Linked DNA regions of Homo sapiens: region 1 is linked to region 2. Evidence: fine-mapped expression QTL. A gene starts in region 2. The other region holds a variant in brackets. All regions are shown on one strand. Distances are between the middles of the regions. Region 1 has its middle 44 kb from the start of MIR4686. Region 2 holds the start of ASCL2 (achaete-scute family bHLH transcription factor 2).

What was found. PIP is the estimated chance that this variant, and not a neighbour inherited with it, causes the effect.
Region 1: its variant is fine-mapped to the expression of ASCL2 in whole blood (TOPMed, PIP above 0.99).

Annotation. Positions count from the first base shown.
Region 1 is chr11:2,212,601-2,222,468 of GRCh38, reverse strand. No RefSeq gene overlaps it. Among named protein-coding and RNA genes, the nearest start is that of MIR4686, 44 kb to the right of the region's middle. RefSeq lists enhancers at 7,204-7,764, 9,486-9,868. The variant G/A (reference allele first, on the strand shown) is at 5,102.
Region 2 is chr11:2,265,357-2,275,224 of GRCh38, reverse strand. It overlaps ASCL2 (achaete-scute family bHLH transcription factor 2), which reads left to right and starts at 4,637. Exons shown (of 2, transcript NM_005170.3): 1 at 4,637-5,492; 2 at 6,099-6,727. The coding sequence starts at 4,893. The coding sequence ends at 5,474.

The sequences.
Region 1 (9,868 bases), 53 kb after region 2:
GTCTTGCAGCCCCGAACCCTTTCAGTTGGTCCTTCCAGGCTTGGGTCATTCCCTCCCAGGCCTGTGATGAATGTATCCTGCTGAATATTTTAGGGGGAACCTTCTGGAGATCTCCAGGGTTCACTCTTTGTACCACTCTCTTCTCTGCCCTGCAAACTCTAGCCACCTTGGTCTCCCCAAACCCCCAATTCTGTTACCTCAACTTGGATTCATTGGGCTCTGCCTCAATTTTCCTCCCTGTATTGCAGTCCAAAAACTCTCTCAGGGCAGCAAGACAAGGCAATTGTAGGGCTCACTTTGTTTTTCTTCTCTTGGGGATCACTGTCCTTCTTTGCCCAATATCCTTTCTTGAAAACCAGTGTTTCTTTTTTTTTTTCTTCTTCAATCTTTTTGCTTATTATTTCAGCTGAGAGGGGAAACCCAGTTCCTGTTACTTCGTCTTTGCCAGAAGTGGGTGAAAAGCCTTGGAGAGTGTCATCAGTTTTGACTTATTTTCTGGCTTTGGAGTAAAGGCAGGTTCAGGGACTTCTACTTGTTCTTTCCTGCCATAATAGGTCTTACCACAAAGGTCAAGGAGCTGATGAAGGAGTCTGCCTGCTTATGGGTCCATGTTGATTATTTGTGTAGGAACTGGGGGCGTAATCTTCAAATGGGTTCATGAACATAGCCCACCCCATGAGATAGACCTGGGCCAGATTTCCACTTATTATCTAACTCCCCTATGCTGCTTCTTTAATGGGGGGCCCATGATGGCACTTGGGTCCCCTAGTACCAGTGTTATGAGTGTTATGCAGACTCCATATGCAACAGCCCTGCAAAGATAGTTGTGTCCCTCAGTTATCAGCTGTGATGATCTGATTCAGTGGCTGTAGGTCCCTTGGGGAAAGGACTGAGGACATACCACAGGTTGCATTTGGTATGCTGTTTCAGGGTCCTGCCTCATGGGGACCCAGCTTCTCTTTCCATTGGTGAGTCTGGGTCTGAGAACTGGCTGAGGTCTGGAAATGGTCAAGGGGTCAGGATTGCATTTGAGAGAATGATCTCAGCCTCAGGCATCCAGTCTTGATCCCTTGTTTCTATATTAAAGGGTCACCTGGTTGGTTGCCCACCTGTCCCCTCTAGGAGCATCATGCTCTATTATCCTTCTCAAAGACCCCTGTGGGTAAGGCCAACTGGTGCCATTTCCTCTTTGCTGCCCGAATTCACTTTCTGTGGCTGCCATAACTAAGTACCATAGACTGGGGGACTTAATAACCAGAAGTTTATCCTCCTCAGTCCTGAAGGCTGGAATCCAAGATCAAGGTGTCACAGGGCTGGTTCCTCCTGAGGCTTCTCCCCTTGGCTGGCAGATGGCTGCCTTCTAGCTGTGTCCTCACAGGGTCCTCCCCCTGTGTGTGTCTGGGTTCTAATCTCCTCTTCTCACAAGTATATCAGTCAGGTTGGATTAAAGCTGCTAGAATTTGGATGTTTGTCCACTCCAAACCTCATGTGGAAATTTGATCCAATGTTGAAAGTGGAGGCCTAATGGGAGGTGTTTGGGTCATGGGAGTAGATCCCTCATGAACAGGTTAATGCCCTCCCTGGTAGAGCGGGGCAAATGAGGTCTCACTTTATTAGTTCCCTCAAGAGCAGGTTGTTAAAAAGAGGCTAGCACCTCCCTCCCATCTCTCTGGCTTGCTCTCTTGCCATACGGTCTCTGCACACACTGGCTCCCCCTCACCTCCACCATGAGTGGAAGCAGCCTGAGGCCCTCACCAGCAGCAGATGCAGGCCCCGTGCTTCCTGTACAGCCTGCAGAACCATGAACCAAATAAACCTCTTTTCTTTATAAATTACCCAGTCTCAGGTGTGCTTTTATAGTAACACAAGTGGACTGAGAAAATTGGTACTGAGAGTGGGGTGTTGCTATAAAGATACCTGAAAATGTGGAAGTGGCTTTGGAACTGAGTAATGGGCAGAGGTTGAATGAGTTTGGAGGGCTCAGAAGAAGACAAGAAGATGAGGGAAAGTTTTAAACTTCTTGGAGACTAGTTAAGTGGTTGTGACTAAAATGCTGATAGACATGCAGGCAATAGAGGCCATGCTGATGAGGTCTCTGATAGAAATGAGGAACTTACTGGGGACTGGAGCGAAGATCACCCTTGTTAACCCCTAGCAAAGGTTGCAACTGCATTGTGTCCGTGCTTTAAGGCTTTGTAGAAGGCTAACCTTAAGAGTGATGACCCAGAATGTTTAGTGGAAGAAATTTCTAAGCAGCAGAGTGTTCCAGAAGTACCATGGCTACTTTTAACAACTTACAATCACTACAACAGCAAAGGAATGATCTAAAGGTAGAATTTCTAATAAAAAGGGAAGTAGAGCATACAAATTTAGACAATTTTCAGCCTGGCCTGTGGTAGAGAAGCAAAGAATGTTTTCAGGAGAGGAATTCAAGGTCCTTTGTGACACCGGTTGCTAGAGGGGTTGGCATGACTGAAAGAGGGTATAATGCTAACAGTCAAAACAATGGGGAAAGGGCCCTGAAGGTATTTTGAAGGACTTTGAGGCCACCCTGCCCATCACAGGCCCAGAGGCCTAGCAGAACAGAGTGGCTTGGAGGGTCAGGTCCAGGGTGCCACTGCTGTGGACCACCTTGGGATGCTGCTTCCCACATCCCAGCCACCCCAGATCCAGCCATGGTCCCAATGGCCTCAGATACCGCTTGGACAGCTGCCCTGCAGAGCACGAGGCATGGGACTTGCTGGCTTCCATGTATTGTTAAGTCTGCAGGAATCCAGAATGCAAAAGTGCTGGAGGTTTGGCCACTTCCATTTAGATTTCAAAGGGTGTATTGGAAAGCCTGGGTGCCCAGGCAGAACCCTGCTGCAGGGATAGAGCCCTTCGGAGATATTCTTCTACTGGAGCTGTGGGAATGGGGCTGCCAGGGGGACCCCAGAATTACAGAGACACCAGCAGTGTGCAATCGCAGCCTGGAAAAGCCCCAGGCATTGGACTCCAACCTGTGAGAGTAGCCACGTGGGCTGGGCTCAGCAAAGCCATGGGGGCAGGGCTGTCCAGAGTCCTGGGAGCCCACCCTTCCTTCCAGCGTGGGATGTGGGACATGGAGTCAAAAGAGATTTGGGAGCTTTAAGATTTAATGTCTGTTCTGCTGGGTTTCAAGCTTGTGTGGGACCTGTCCTGCCTTTCTTTTGGTCAATTTCTTCCTTTTGGAATGGGAATGTTTACCCAATGTCTGTCCCACCATTGTACCTTGGAAGTAAATGACTTGATTTTGATTTTACAGGCTCATACCTGAAAGAAACTTGCCTTGAGTCTTAGATGAGACTTTGCACTTTGGACTTTTAAATGGATGCAGGAAGAAGCTAAAACTTTAGGGGACTCCTGAGATGGGATGATTGTATTTTGCATGTGAGAAGGACATAAATTTGGGGGGACTGGGGAGGAATGCTATAGTTTGGATGTTTGTCCCCCAACCTCATGTTGAAATTTGATGCCCAGTGTTGGAGGTGGGGGCCTGATGTGAGCCGTTGGGGTCATGAGGATGGATTCCTCATGAGTGGATTAATGCCCTCCCTGGAGGAGGGTGAGAACTAAGTTCTTACTTTGAGTTCCCATGAGCACTGATTGTTAAGAAGAGCCCAGCACCTTCCCTCTCTCTTGGTTCCTCTCTCACCATGTGGTCTCTGCACACCGGCTCTCACCCTCCCGCCATGAGTGGATGCAGGCTGAGGCCCCCCCCAGCAGCAGATGCAGGTGCCATGCTTCCTGTACAGCCTGCAGAACCATGAGCCAAATAAATCTCATTTCTTTATCAATTACCCAGTCTCAGGTATTCCTTTATAGCAACACAAACAGAGTAAGACAAAAGCCCACACCCATGACCTCGTTAGGACTCTCACACTGGATCTTGGATTGTGAATTTATAGATCTGAACTTGGGGTTTTCTTCCTTCAGGACCTTCATGGCTCTCAGCAAAAGCTGCCCGTTCCACAGCTCTTTGCTTAAGGTTTCCCCATAGTTCTCAAGTGCTGGGGACATGGCACCAGGTGGTCTGTGATCCCACAGTGTTCTGCTCTAGCCTGCCAGGGGCTCTATCCACTCCTCCCCTGCTCACCCCCATGAGGGGCTCCTCCTTGCCCTGGTCAGTGAGAGAGCTGATCACAGAGCCCACACCTGGGCTCAGCTTCCCAGTGCCATGCCTGGCACCAACTGTCTCAGGCCTGTTCCCCTGAAGAAGAATCTGCAGTGGGGTTTCTCATGCATGGGATTTGTTGGGGGAGGGGTGCCCTCCCAGGAAGAGAAGAGGCTGAGAACACAGGCAAGCAAGAGGGGGTCTCGGCAGCAGACAGCCTCAGGGAGCTCTGGGGCATAAATTGTACTATAGTAGGCTGGGCTTTGAGGTAAGGGGACTGGGTTTCATATTCCTGGGTGGTCACTCCTAGCGTGGGCTGCCCCTGGGCTGGGGCATAGCCTCCTGTTTGCCTGAGAACGAGTCACTGAGGAGGGGCAGCTGTGAGTACTTGCAGCCAACCTCTGTGGCTGGGAATGGTTGCAGAGCCAGTGTAGGAGTCAGGTGGAGCCGAGGGTGTAAGGGCCAGGCGGAGCAGAGGCTGGTATAGGGACCCAGTGGGCACAGGGCATGAGGACCCAGTGAGGCGCTGGCAGCATGCTGCAGGCTGGACAGCTCCAGGCACCTTTCTCATTACCACGTGTCCTCCTCGCACCGGGCATTGTGAAGCTTCCAAGGCTGGGTCCACAGGGCGTTGGAACAGGGGGAGCCCACAGAGAGCCTGCCAGGCATGGGGGCTGTCCTGGGAAGCTGCTCTGGCCCCAAGAGGTGCCTTGGGAAGGCTTGGCCTGGCCACAGTCCTGCAGCACCCCCTGGGCATGGGACGGGGGTGCCCAGCTCAGCCAGGCTCAGAGGTCCTGGCCCCCTACAGCAGGCAGCGGGCAGCATCCACACCTGTAGGTCTCCTTGTCCCAGCAGGTGGGACTCCAGGCACACTCGCTGCAGCAGCGGTGTCTGTCTGAGCCTGCCGGCCTGGGTGGGCACCGCTGAGGACGTTTTTTGGGCGTTGGTGCCAGGGTGTCGGTGCTGGGC[G/A]TTGGTAGTGGTGTCCCTGTGGGCAGGCAGCTGTGCTGGGAGGGCGGGTGTTGCTGGGTGCCCATGGGTGTGGCTGTGGCTGTGGGTACGTGTGGCTGTGAGAGGATGGGCACGTCTCTGCGTGCCTGTGTGTGCCCCTGTTTTGTGTGTCTGTGTGTGCCCATACGTCTCTGTGCACCTGCATGTGTCTGAGCATACCTGTGTGTGTCCGTGTGTGGCTGTGCGTCCCTGTTGTTTGTGCATGATGGTGTGTATTTGTGTTTATCTGTGTGTGGCTCTGTGTGTCTGTGTTTTGTCTGTTCATGTCTGTGTGGCTATGTGTACTGTGTGTGGCTGTGTGTATTTGTGTTTATCTGGGTATGGCTATGTGTGCCCATGTGTGGCTGTGTGTGTCTGTGTGTACCTTTGTGTGCCCATGTGTGGCTGTGTGTGCTGTGCATGGCTGTGTATATTTGTGTTTATCTGTGTGTGGCTGTGCAAGTCTCTGTGTGTCTGTGTGTCTGTGTGTGTCTGTGTGGCTGTGTGTCTGTGCGTGTCCGTGTGTGTCTTTGTGGCTGTGTGTCTGTGTGTGTCTTTGTGGCTGTGTGGCTGTGTGTGCTGTGCATAGCTGTGTGTGTTTGTGTTTATCTGTGTGTGGCTGTGCATGTCTGTGCGTGTCTGTGTGTGTGCCTTGCGTGTTTGTGTGTGTACCTGTGTGTGCCTGGTGCCCTCCAGGAGAAAGGGGGCAGGGAGCCCATTGCAAGGATGGGCGGTGTACGACCTGTCTCCCTGAGGATTTCTGAGGGTGTGAGGGTGGGGTAGCCACAAGTGTGTCTATGCCGGGCTCCCTGCTGTTTAGAGGGTGGGGTGATAGGCAGCTGAGAAAGGAGAAGGGAAGAAGCAGCTCTGAGCTCCCTCCTGACCTCAGGAGACCCTGCACCCATTGCTGACCGCCCACGGCACCCTGCTCTCCCAGGGGCCTGGGAGCAGCCCTGGGGCCTGGCTGTGAGCGGGGCCTGAGAGGTGGGGCGCGGCCCTCGGGGCTGCCCATCTGGCCCAGGTTACACCTGGCTGGTGCCTACTTTCCTCAGGTGAGGACCTGCGCATCCCAGGCTCAGGGTCCTCTCTGTGAAGGGGGCACGATGGTGAGACCACCCTGAGCATCCGGTGCGCCCAGTGCATCCCGCAGGGAGGCCCCATCCTCAGCTCCTCTGGGGGTCTGTCCGGAGTGCCTCTTGGTCCAGCTGCATCCATCCAGTCTGCTGGCACTGACTGAGCACCTACTGGACACACTGGGATATAGTGGGGGGATCTGGGCCGGGCAGGGACCCCCACAGGGCTTGTGGGTCAGGGCAGGAGAAGGCCCGGGGCAGTGGGGGCAAGCAGAAGCCAGGCTCCGCGGCCTCTGACACTGAGGGCCCCAGGTGGGCCTCCTGGGTGGCTGCTCTCCTGCACCCTCTGCAGACAGCTACCTCACCCTCACGTCTCCCCAAGCCCTGGTCACACACTTGGCCTGTCCACTTGAGGGCCTCGCGGGCTTCTGAAAACTCACTTGTCTGGGACTTGCTCCCGGTCCCCCCTCACCTACCCCACAGTGGCCGTCCTGGTCCCCCTTCCCCTATCCCCCAGCGCCCGTCCCGGTCCCCCCTCACCTACCCCCCCAGCACCCGTCCCAGTCCCCTTCACCTACTCCCCAGCGGCCTTCCGGGTCCCCTCTCACCTACCCCCGCAGCGCCTGTCCCAGTCCTCCCTCATGTACCCTCCAGCACCCGTCCCGGTCCCCCGTCACCTACCCCTCAGCGCCCGTCCCGGTCCTCCCTCACGTACCCCCCAGTGGCTGTCTCAGTCACCCTCACCTACCCCCCAGCACCCGTGCTCCCTCTGGCTACTCCTGGCTTCCATTCCATGGAATTTAGCACCTCGAGCTTCTGTGTGCTCAGTGACACCTCTGATCTCTGCTTCCTTTCCCCCAGGGTGGATGCTTTGCGGGTTCTAGGACTGGGTCTGTTTTGCTCCTGGCTGTGACCCAGTGCCCAGAGTGGAGCCTGGCTTGTGTATGAAGGGGACAAATGTGTACCCCTGAACGAGGACTGGGGTGTGTGGCCTGGCTGGGGAGGCTGCGGAGCCTTCCTCACAGGAGAGGGTCCAGTAGAGTTAATTTGGGCAAAATGCAGGTGTGCAAAGGCCCTGCGGCTAGTCAGGCATGGACCTGCAGAGGCTGGGGTGGGTGGGCACCACCCAAAGCCTGGGGAGGCAGGTGGGCCGGCCTAGTCCTAGCACAAAGGCTCTGTGTGGGTTCTGCCTGTGACTTTACCAAAGGCCGACGGATAGCCCTGGGGGCCTCTAAGCACGGAGACGTGCCCACTGATGCCCATGTTTGCAGAGGTCAGGCTGACTCCCCAGAGGAGGATGAGCAGAGGCAGAGTGGCAGAGCAGGAGGGTAAAGGGAGACCACGGAGATGTCACTGCCCTCCCGATGGCGTGTCTGAAGGACAGAATGTGGGGGCAGGAAGGAGCAGCTGCCAGCGGGGCAGGTGGCAGGGCAGGTGGCAGGGCAGTAGTACCCAGCATCAAGGTCCGGCCTGGCGAGGAGGCCCAGGCGGTGAGGAGCCCCGGGGCTCGGGCCTGGGGCAGCTGGACCCGTGCTGCCGTCTGTCGTCTGAGAGTGACAGAGGGCAGCTGGCTTCTGGGTTGGAGCACAGGGGAGAGGGAGGCGGCCTAGCGGGAGACGGACTGTGGCCTGCGTGTAGCCGGCAACTGTGGCAGGAAGATGAGAGGAGGCCGTCTGGAGCAGCTCCGGACCCAGTGGAAGAGGCCGTCCCGCAAGGACCTGGGGAGGAGCAGCAGAGCGGGGAAGAAACAGATGAGGGGCTGGGAAGGCAGGAGGAGGTCTCCAGGGCTGGAGGCCAAAGCACTGGGCCCCTTGGCAGTGCGGGAGCTGACTGACCTGGACTGTGGTTAGAAGAGAGGTGGCATGAGGTGACAGGGAAAGGGAGTGGACAGGCCTTCTCTCTTTCCAGACATTTAATGTGAAGTAAAGAGGTTGGCACGAGCTGTGTGGCAGTCTGTGGACTCAAGGGATGAGTATTTAAGATGGGAGAGAACTGAGCCTGTCTAGAAGCCCGTGGAAGAAATGAGTTACAGGCCACAAAAAGACAGGGAGAAACCGCTAACTCGACATGTGGAAGAGGCCAGGCTGCAAAGGATTGTAGGATCCTGTAGGGTTCTACCCTTAGGACATTCTGGAAACAGCAAAACCATGAAGACAAACGTCAGCGGCTGCCAGGGGTTAGGGAGGCAGGAGGAACAAACAGGTGGAGCATGGAGGATTTCGGGGCCGTGGAACCCCTCTATGGGGTGCTGTAACAGTGGATACAGGGTAGTATTAGTCCAAACCCATAGAACTTATAACACCGAGCTCCAAGCCTCATGTAAACTATGGCCTTTGCATAATAATTAAGTATTGATGTATTTCAAAACAACGTGTAGTGCAGGATAAATATATGCATTGTTATTTGTCAATTACATAAACAGAAATGTTTTTTAAAAAGCATCAGCGTGGATAAGCAAAGTGCGATCTTCTCATACGGTGGGGGATCCGGACCCACGCTGTCACGGGGTGGACCTGAGGCAGGGGCTCAGCGGGAAAAGCCAAACACGGAAGGACGGACGCTGTGTGCTGCCACTCACATGAGGCTCCTACAGTCATCAAATCCGCAGAGACGGGAAGTAGAACAGTGGGTGTCAGGGGCTGGGGGAGGGGTGGGGAGTTTGCTTTGAATGGGGACAGAGTCTCATCTCGGGAAGATGAAAGGGTTCCGGAGATGGATGGCAGTGAGGGCTGCACACCAGTGTGAGTGTCCCTAATGCCCCTGAACTGTGCATTGAAAAACAGTGTACATTTAGGACAGTACATTGATGTGATGTGTTTTTTGCCCCAATAAAAAGTATGCGACTTTAAAAAATGTCCAATGGGTTCCTGGCCACAGCGATGCAAGAGGCCAGTAACGGGGAGACTGCAGGCATGGGGGAGGGCTGGGCAGGGGGTAGAGCATCAGGGAACTTTCTGTACTTTCTGCTCCATTTTCTATAAACCTTAAAGTGTGTTCTTTAAAAAAAAAAAAAAAAAAAAAAAAAAGGCTACCAGTTACAAAACAGAAAAAGCCCAGAGGCCAATGAGGGCACCCGGCATAGCCTGCAGGCCAGTTGGCCGGAGGGGCTGGAGGAGGTTGGGATGGGGCTGGCCCCTGCTGCATGCCCTGCCTGCACCCCTCTCCAGGCTGCAGGTGGGGGTCTCCTGGGGTTTGCCTGTTGCCCCTGGGGCTGTGTGCTCCATGCTAGCAGGAGCCAGGGCAGCCTGCCCACTCCTGCGTTCCCCCAGCAGGGCCAGCTTCTGCTGCCTAGCAGGTCTTCAGGACATTGTGAGAAAGAGTGGATGGACTGGACAAACGTGCTCGGAGGAGTGTGTGTGTGGCCACAGTGGCTCCCAGGGAGGGCCATGCTCAACAGGAGCTGGGATGGTGCCACGGGAGGCTCAGGGCCACAAACCTGGAGATCAAGGCACAGATCAAGGCCGTGGCCAGCCCCAGGCAGAGCTGGGAGTGAGCCAGGCCGCCCGACTGGGGTCTGTGGCCTGGCCTCGGCCCCAGCCCGTCTTGGTTTCCCACACTCAGGGACCCACTGTTTGTGTGTCTGTCTCAGTGGGCTGTCATTTTTAAAAGGAGGTGAAGTTCACATACCCAGAATTAGCTATTTTCAGTGCACAATCCAGCGTATCCAGCACGATCT
Region 2 (9,868 bases):
TTGAGTTTGAGGAGCTGCAGGAGGATGGGGGTCGGGCCAGGTGTCACGTGGACATACCAGTCCTCTGGAGCAGCTGTCAGCAGACCGAGGCCCATGGGCCAGATCCAGCCCCTGGCCTGCTTTTGTATTGCCCAAAAGCTAGGAATTTTCTTTAAATTCTTAAGTGGTTAAAAAATTAAAATCCATACCCATTAGCTATCATCAAAAAACTATTATCACCTCAGCCAGGCTGGGCAACATAGTCAGACTCTATCTCTACAAAAAATAAAAATTTGGCCGGGCATGGTGGCACGTATCTGTAGTCTCAGCTACTCGGGAGGCTGAAACTAGAGAATGGCTGGAACTCGGGAGGCAGAAGTCGCAGTGAGCCAAGATTGCGCCACTGCACTCCAGCCTGGGAGACAGAGCGAGACTCCGTCTCAAAAACAAACAAAAACAAAACGAAACGAAACAAACCCAGAAAGCACCAAGTGTGGGCGGGGATGTGGAGACATCAGAACCTCGTGCGCAGCAGGAATGTACTGTGGGCAGCCACTGCGGAAAACAACATGGTGGTCCCTCAAAAGGTTAAACAGAGGTTTGCCGTATGACCTGGCAACTCCGCTTCTCCGTCTATCCCCAAAAGAACTGAAAGCAGGATCTCAAAGAGATATTTGTACCCCCATGTCCACAGTAGCGTCACTGACGGTAGCCCAAGGGTGGAAACCACCCCAGCATCCACTGACGGAGGAACGGATCAACACCGTGGTCTACCCATACAGTGGAATATTATTCACCCATAAAAAGAGAGGAAATCCTTATGCAGGCTACGACATGGATGAAGCTCGAGGGCATCAGCATCAGTGTAAGAAGCCGGTCCACAAAAAGACAGATGCTGTAGGATTCCACTTACAGGAGGTCTCCAGAGCAGTCAAATCTACAGACACAGAGTGGATGGTGGGTGCCAGGGGCTGGGGGAAGGGTCATGGGAAGCTGCTGTTTAATGGGGACAGACTTTCGGTTTGGGAAAATGAGAAACTTTTGGAGATGGATGGTGGTGATGATTGCACAGCCACATGAATATACTGAATTCCACGGAACCGTGCACTTACAAATGGTTAAGAAGGTCCATTTTATGTCATGTGTATTGAACCACAGTCTGAAAATTCGGAGTATTTTGTAACAGTGAGTGTGACCTGGACTTCATGTTTCAGTGACCAGGAAGCAAGTTTTGTTATTTCTTCCCTGCCCAAGCCTGCATTTGCGCCCCAAGGCAGACGACTCGTGGCAGAGACATGTGACCGTCAAGGCCGAAAATACTTACCACGTGTTCCTTTGCAGAAAAAGTTTGCCTTACCCCTGTTCAAGAGCTCAGGAATGAAGTCGGAGATAGGTAGAGCCTGGGAGAGGTGCCAGGGTGCCCAGGCAAAGGCCCCATGAGGCCGCATGCTTATGTTCGAAGGTCTTCTAACTGCTTTATCAAGATACAGTTCACATTCCACAAAGTGTACATTTCAATGGTTTTTTTGTGTGTTGTACAGAGCTGTGAAGCCAACAGGACAGGCCATGTTAGAACGTTCTTATCCTCTGGGAAAGAAACCACGTACCCTTTCACAGTCACCCCCATCCCTCTGTTGTCACTCCCCAGCCCCTGGCAACCGTGAATCTCCTTTCTGTCTCTGTGAATTTATCGACTCCGCACATTTCATAGACTGAGAGTCTCACGCTACGTGGTCCTCGGTGTCTGGCTTCGTTCACGCGGCCTCGTGTTCTCGAGGTTCACCAGCTTCGTCTCTTTTTAGGGCTGAGTAATCTTCCATTATTCTGGACCATGTTTTGTTTATCCACTCATCTGTTGATGGACATGTGGCTATTTTGAATCCTGCTGCTGGAAACATTCATGTGGGCACCGTGCTTACCAAGGCTGTATTCTCAGAACGGACTGAGAGGCCAAGAGTTCCAGAGAAGACGGCTCAGATAGTGTGGAGACTCACCAGTCCAGGAGACAGCATGCTTCCGAATTAAGGGGGGTGCTGCAGTGTCAAATGCTGCACAGCCGGAGGCACCCAGGAATGAAGGAGGGGCCGAGGCAGGGAGAGACACAGGTCCCTAGGGAATTATTTTTAAGCTAGGCTTTGGGGGCAGACGGGGTTTCCACAGCGGTGGGAGGACCAGATTGGGAAGAGGATGAAGATAGAGAGAGGTGTTGGTGGTGGGGGGGGACTGGCCTGGACATGGCACAGCAGACGCAGGTGGGTGCAGGACTGTGCCTGAGGGCAGGGTAGCAAGAAGCCATGCCTGGGCAGTGAGAGGCTTCAGTTTTTAGACAGGAAGTTCTGGGGTGATCTGAAGAGGGCTTGCAGGTCCTGCTCCGGAGATCTTACCAGCTGTGGAGGGGCTTGGACGAAGACCGGGTAGAGAGCAACCCAGCCGCTGTACCGCTCGTCCCTGTTGACCCCCGGGGTGTATGCAGCCACACCCAGAGCAGCAGAGGGCCCACCCATCAAGTCACAGAATCCTGAGAAATAATACATCGTTGTTCAGACCGCTAAAATCCTGGTGGCTCCTTACACAGCAACAGATGACCGAGGGGCTCCCAGCCCGGGAGGTGGAAATCCAGCAGGGATTTCCAAGGCCTAGTTTGCAGGGCTCCAGGATCGTTCCTAGATCCTGGTCTTGCAGCCTTGACAAGGGGAAGGAGGGAGGCAGCAGAAGGAGGGCAGAACAATCCATGCCAGGCTGTGATTTGCCAAGTGACCATCTGGGAAGAATGGGCTCTCAGACCAGGGACAGGGAGCAGAGGCAAGCCCGCATCTGCCCTGGTTGCAGAACCCGGATTCAGACTCAGGGCCCCGATTTCTGCCTGGATCGCTCCACTGGGCGGAGGAGTGACTGTGGACACATCCAGGGTTCTCTCCAAGTCGGCTTCCTCATCTGCCAAATAGAGACCGCAGACCACCAGCTCCCAGGCAGGTGCTACTCTTCCGGCCCCTCCCAAGGCAGGAGGGCCAGGCGTACTCGAGACACAGGTGTGCTGGGGGCCCAGGTGGGCCAGCCAGCAGCATCCTGCAGGGTAATGGGAGCAGGTGGGCACCCCGAGGCTGGCAGTAAACACTGGCTATCTGCCCCCAGGCTCCCAGGAGGGGTCTTGGGCCTCACCTCCTCCGGCCGGAACAGGAAAGCAGCTCCAGGCAGCTGGGTCCACAAAAATCTCCGTTCCCTGAGGTCTCAGAGGCAGTGGCCCAGGAGCATCTGGTCACCTTCGGGAAAAACCGGCTTGGCAAAGGCTCCCCCGAGGGCACGCGTTTCCCGGACAGTGAGGCAGGACCTAAACTCTTCCGTTAACACTACATTTTTCGCATTTCTGCAGTGTTTGCACTCTCAGGCCCCACCATTTCCCCGCATCTCTTAGGGAGAAGTTCTCGACGTCCCACCTCCCCTGGAAGGGTGCTGCTCCCAGAGACCTTCAGGCCAATGGCCCAATCTCAGTGCCCTCAGGGGAGAGGGGGGTGCAGAAAAACAGCCTGGGTCACAAAAGAGGTGCGAGGGCTGTGAGATCCCGGAGGCACCGACGGGAAGCGAGACGGAGAACAGGAGGGCAGGACGGGCTGGAGGTGGGGGATACTGCAGATGGAGGGAGCCACGGTGGGGGAGGGCGTGGACCTGACCGTCCTGGCACAAGGCGGTCGGGTGCAGACCTCCAGGCCCTCCGGGTTAAGGTGCCGCCCAGAGCCCTCAGGCCGGGGGCGCACGGAAACCACAGGCAGGGTGCGCGTGGAGGGACGGGGAAAGCGGGGCGGGTTGGGGAAGGCGCCCCGGGAACCTGAACCTCCCACCCCGCCTCAGTCTCGACCACTCCTTAAGCCCCACCCCGCCCCAGGTAAGGCGCAGTCCACCCCCATTCCCAGTAGATTAACGCACAGGTGGGGGCGCGCTCGGGACATAGCTGCGCTAGGGGACAGCGCGCCCAGCCCAGTCGCGGGGGCGAGGAGCAGGGCGGGGCCCAGCAGGAACCCAGCTTTGTTAGCGATGCTCCCCGTGAGCCACGCGCCACGCGTACGCGCTTCCTCAATGGGGCCGGGCGTGGAGCCGCGCCCTGCGCGATTGGCCAAACGGGTGGCCCACGATTGGCTGAGACCCTGGCCCCCGCCTCCTCGGCCCCAGGAGGGTGGGGCGTGGGTGTGGGCTGCGCGGCGCGTGCTGCCCCCGGGGATCTTGCGCGCCTCCCGAACAGCCGTGTTGTCGCCAGGGCCGCGCCTTCCCTCCCACAGCGCGCGCTGCGCGTGCGAAGGTCTGGCGGCTCTTGGGACTGGCGGGGCTGCGCGCGGGGTTAGGGTGGGGGTACGGGAAGGCTCAACCCAGGACCTGCGTACCTTGCTTTGGGGGCGCACTAAGCACCTGCCGGGAGCAGGGGGCGCACCGGGAACTCGCAGATTTCGCCAGTTGGGCGCACTGGGGATCTGTGGACTGCGTCCGGGGGATGGGCTAGGGGGACATGCGCACGCTTTGGGCCTTACAGAATGTGATCGCGCGAGGGGGAGGGCGAAGCGTGGCGGGAGGGCGAGGCGAAGGAAGGAGGGCGTGAGAAAGGCGACGGCGGCGGCGCGGAGGAGGGTTATCTATACATTTAAAAACCAGCCGCCTGCGCCGCGCCTGCGGAGACCTGGGAGAGTCCGGCCGCACGCGCGGGACACGAGCGTCCCACGCTCCCTGGCGCGTACGGCCTGCCACCACTAGGCCTCCTATCCCCGGGCTCCAGACGACCTAGGACGCGTGCCCTGGGGAGTTGCCTGGCGGCGCCGTGCCAGAAGCCCCCTTGGGGCGCCACAGTTTTCCCCGTCGCCTCCGGTTCCTCTGCCTGCACCTTCCTGCGGCGCGCCGGGACCTGGAGCGGGCGGGTGGATGCAGGCGCGATGGACGGCGGCACACTGCCCAGGTCCGCGCCCCCTGCGCCCCCCGTCCCTGTCGGCTGCGCTGCCCGGCGGAGACCCGCGTCCCCGGAACTGTTGCGCTGCAGCCGGCGGCGGCGACCGGCCACCGCAGAGACCGGAGGCGGCGCAGCGGCCGTAGCGCGGCGCAATGAGCGCGAGCGCAACCGCGTGAAGCTGGTGAACTTGGGCTTCCAGGCGCTGCGGCAGCACGTGCCGCACGGCGGCGCCAGCAAGAAGCTGAGCAAGGTGGAGACGCTGCGCTCAGCCGTGGAGTACATCCGCGCGCTGCAGCGCCTGCTGGCCGAGCACGACGCCGTGCGCAACGCGCTGGCGGGAGGGCTGAGGCCGCAGGCCGTGCGGCCGTCTGCGCCCCGCGGGCCGCCAGGGACCACCCCGGTCGCCGCCTCGCCCTCCCGCGCTTCTTCGTCCCCGGGCCGCGGGGGCAGCTCGGAGCCCGGCTCCCCGCGTTCCGCCTACTCGTCGGACGACAGCGGCTGCGAAGGCGCGCTGAGTCCTGCGGAGCGCGAGCTACTCGACTTCTCCAGCTGGTTAGGGGGCTACTGAGCGCCCTCGACCTATGAGGTAACAGCCGGGAGGCAGGGAGGAGGGAGGGCCGGGGGCCGGGGTGGAGGGACGGGGTGGGCAGGCCCGGCGGGTCGCGCCCCCAGGAGCCCGCGGAGCCGAGCGCCAGGCCCGAGCGATGGCTTCGATTTCGCTCACTCTTCATTTCCCCCAAAGTTTTTCAAGCCCGTGCAAGACCGGCGTTTGTTTGTCCGGGATTGCAAAACTTCCCCTCGCGGCTCAGCCGCCGACGAGGGAGGGGTAGACGAGGGGAGGGGAGCGGCCGTCGGGCCGTTGAGGTCTCTAGTGCTGGCGGATCCTGGGGCAGATTGGGGTGCTGGAGGCGGGGTGACTTTGCATTGCAAATCGCGCTCCCGGGCCGGGGCGGCAGAAATGAGTCGGCGGGCGCGGAGCCCTGACTCACCGCGGCTCCGAGCGCCCGCCCCGCCCCCGCCGTGTCTCAGACCGAGTCGCGGCACCCACGGACTCAAGACTCCAAAACCAACCGAGCAAACGAAACTGCCGACTTCGCTTGGGGGAGGTGCGGGCAGGGCCGGCCCGGGCGGGGTCTGCCCCGGGCCCGCGCCCGCGTTGACGCGCGTTTGGTTCCCCACCTTCCCCCCGCAGCCTCAGCCCCGGAAGCCGAGCGAGCGGCCGGCGCGCTCATCGCCGGGGAGCCCGCCAGGTGGACCGGCCCGCGCTCCGCCCCCAGCGAGCCGGGGACCCACCCACCACCCCCCGCACCGCCGACGCCGCCTCGTTCGTCCGGCCCAGCCTGACCAATGCCGCGGTGGAAACGGGCTTGGAGCTGGCCCCATAAGGGCTGGCGGCTTCCTCCGACGCCGCCCCTCCCCACAGCTTCTCGACTGCAGTGGGGCGGGGGGCACCAACACTTGGAGATTTTTCCGGAGGGGAGAGGATTTTCTAAGGGCACAGAGAATCCATTTTCTACACATTAACTTGAGCTGCTGGAGGGACACTGCTGGCAAACGGAGACCTATTTTTGTACAAAGAACCCTTGACCTGGGGCGTAATAAAGATGACCTGGACCCCTGCCCCCACTATCTGGAGTTTTCCATGCTGGCCAAGATCTGGACACGAGCAGTCCCTGAGGGGCGGGGTCCCTGGCGTGAGGCCCCCGTGACAGCCCACCCTGGGGTGGGTTTGTGGGCACTGCTGCTCTGCTAGGGAGAAGCCTGTGTGGGGCACACCTCTTCAAGGGAGCGTGAACTTTATAAATAAATCAGTTCTGTTTACCAGTGGCTCCTATCACCTACACTTCCCAGGTGACGGCCAGACTTCCGTGGTCACTACTCCTCAAACCCTGCTGCCTCCTCCGTAGGGTGGGTCTGGGTGAGATCTGGAGTGCAGCCAGGCCGTTGATAGCGGAGCCATTGGGACACCTTGTGAGGCTGGGGGCATCCTCCAGGAGGTGGTGGGCTGGTGGGTTGTCCAGACAGGGCTACTCGCTGGCTTGGAAGCTGCAGGCTGGAGGCTGCTGACCCATCCCGAGGGCTGGGGTAAGTGCTGGGTGTGGGGCTAGGCTGAGGTGGTCTGACCAGAGAGCACCGGCTGTGGGGCTGAGGGCATGGGCTCCTGCGCAGGCCACCACGCTCAGATCTCCACTAACGTGGCAGCTGGGCAGCCCAGGGCAAGTGGGTTAACTTGCAAATGGGTTTGACCAGACCCACCTCAACGGCCTCTGGGAGGAGTTAGTGAGAGGTGCCTGGAGGCTGCCCTCTCGCTAGCTTTGGGTTTTGCCCGCACTGGGGAGGCCCTGCAGGTCTCCGCTCACCTGAATTCTAAGAGCGGCTCTTGAAAGGAACAAGGAAGGCTTGGAAGCTTTGCGCCAGGCTCCCCGCAGCCGGAGAGCTGGCACTGGGATATTACACGGCTATACCTTTGACTCAGGGCCTAGGAGGCTTTGATGTCTCACTGTACCGAAAGCTGCCTTTTAGTGTCCTGGTGGGGGAGGGGTTGTGGGGCTCCCCCGGTTTCTTTAGGGCGCAGAGGCACCCCTTCCTTCAGAAAGGAGTGGTTGGGACAGAGCCGTGGGAGCCCTGCGAGGTGGGAGCAGCTGGTGTTGTCCCAGAGTGGGTGGCTCCTGAATAACCACGGCAACAGGACACCCAGGCTACCGGGATGCCTGGGTCTCAAACGTCAGGCTGGCCAGGTCCCTTCTTATCAGAGGAGCTCAGGGCTCCTCTCTCGCCAGCTGCAGCCTCAGTCCAGGTGGGGGCTCCTCAGCAGCCAAGGTCAAAGCCGAGTCTGTAGCGGGGGTCAAAGGGGTCAGCTGGTCTGATGAGGACCAGGCTCAACTGGGGTCAGTGGACCAGCTGTGGCTTGGGGCTGCAGGGCTCAGGGAACTGGCCTTGGCCAAGGGACAGGAGGGGGCACATTGCCGTGGTCACCCAGGGAGGGACATCCCACAGGCTTCTCCCAGAATCCACACCCGGGTCGGTGGCCTCCCTGAGCCCTCCCCAGGACTCCACACCTTGACCTCAAGGAAAGGCCCACAGCTGCCAGGACCACAGGGGGCTGTTGGGTGGGTGAAGAGGGTAGGGGGGAAACGATGGAAGGCCAGGGCAGAGGAAACGACTGCCACCCACTGGCGTGAAGCGGACAAAACTCTGCAGAGGGTAAGTAGTGCTGCCATTTTTGTTTTCCCATTTTCCCATTTTTCATTTTATTATGGAAAATTTCAAACATACACAAAAGCACCGAGGCCTTTGTTGAGCAGTCTCTGTGCCAGGACTTAGGGTGCATCCGTGTGCCACACAAGCCCGTGCTCGTGGAGCCTGGGTCCTAGCAGTGGACACAGGATCCAACCGTTGTACAGTCTGGCCGGTGGAGGACGCACTGGGCTCCAGGGCAGCCCTGGGAAGCCTCCAGCACCAGTTTCAAGGCCCTTCCTGCCCCATCCATCCCCCACGCCATCCCTGCGTTGCTTTGAAGCAAATCCCAGACTTTGAATCCTTTCACCCGTCATGTTTCACGTGTGCCTCTAAAGGAAACCGCAAAAACATCACCCGCTCAAATGAACCACCGTTCTTTCATATCATCGGGGACCCAGCCAATGGCGCAGTCCTCAGGGGGTCTCGTGGTTTTGTGCAGTTGGCCTTATAGAATCGGGATCCGCCGCAGGTCCACACATCAAGTTTGCTTAATAGGTCTCTTAAGCGCCTTGTAAGCAATTTCCCTCCAGTGTCTTCATTGAAGAAGCGGAGATGTCTGTTCCGTTGAGCCCCCGTGTGCGTGGTGGTGTTGATGGCACCGTGCTGGGTGTTGTTATTGGGAGCCTGTCCCTGTATTTCCTGTAGGACAGGGTATGGGGTGCCAGAAGCGGACCTTTGATCAAGTTTGGGGTGGCCTGCAAATGGGGTTGACACCAGGCCCACCTAATGAGTGTGACAGAGATGCCAAGAAAGATCCGTTCCAGGGAGACAAGGGACTCCCTTTCCGAGTTTGCCTCGAGAACTACCCAGCAAGCTTGTGGAAACTTCCATAGACCTCACAGCGATCTAGGCCCAGGCTATCCCCTCGCCTTCACTGGGGCAGAATCGCGTCGTGGTCTAGTGGCTTCCCACCCGTTGCCACCTCCTTCCTGTGTATTTCCTTTCACACGGGCGTTTCCCCGAATGCAGTCCTTATCCAGTTCATCCCACTTGGCACCTGCTGCTCAGAGGATGTAGTGCTGCTGGACTGCATCTCCCAGGAGACAGGACTTGTAGCGACGATGTAACTTGCTGTCCCAGCGGGGACATTTTTGAGACTGGAAAGGGCTGTGGTTGATAACCAGGACCACAGGCGAGTCTCCTGGGCACAGTGGGCTGCTGATTGCCGTGTTATGAAGACCCCTCCCCACACTGTCATTCACCCAGTGCCCAGTAAAGATGAAGTGCCTGAAGTCACAGGCAAGCTGGTCCAACCCACCTTCTCTTGCTGTCGTTTTGTTTTAGGCTCTCAGCAGCCTAAAGTCATGGTTTTAGTTTCTGTCTCTAGTGATAAGCAGAAAAGAGGGATGAGGAAGGGACCCTGCTGGCTCAACCAGAAACAGAAACTAAGAATCCATGACTGTCTTCTCTCCCTTGGACTCAGCTTGAAAATGATGAGAATTGAGATTTAAGCCCTGGACTCTTTCACTTCCACATTCTTGCAATGTTCACGCCTTCCAGGAAGTGAGGCTGAGCCTGGCGGCTCCTTTGGGGACATGACATCCTTAGCAGTTCAGCATTTGAGATCAGTGAGCCTGGACAGAGCCTCACCTGGCCCAGGTGCCAGCCTGTCCTGGGCTCTGCTGTGGGGGCAGCAGGGCTCTGCTAGGAGCTCATGGTCCAGGCCTAGTCCCCACCTGGAAGTTAGAAACTGATTCCAGGGAGAAGGTGATCGTGATGTCA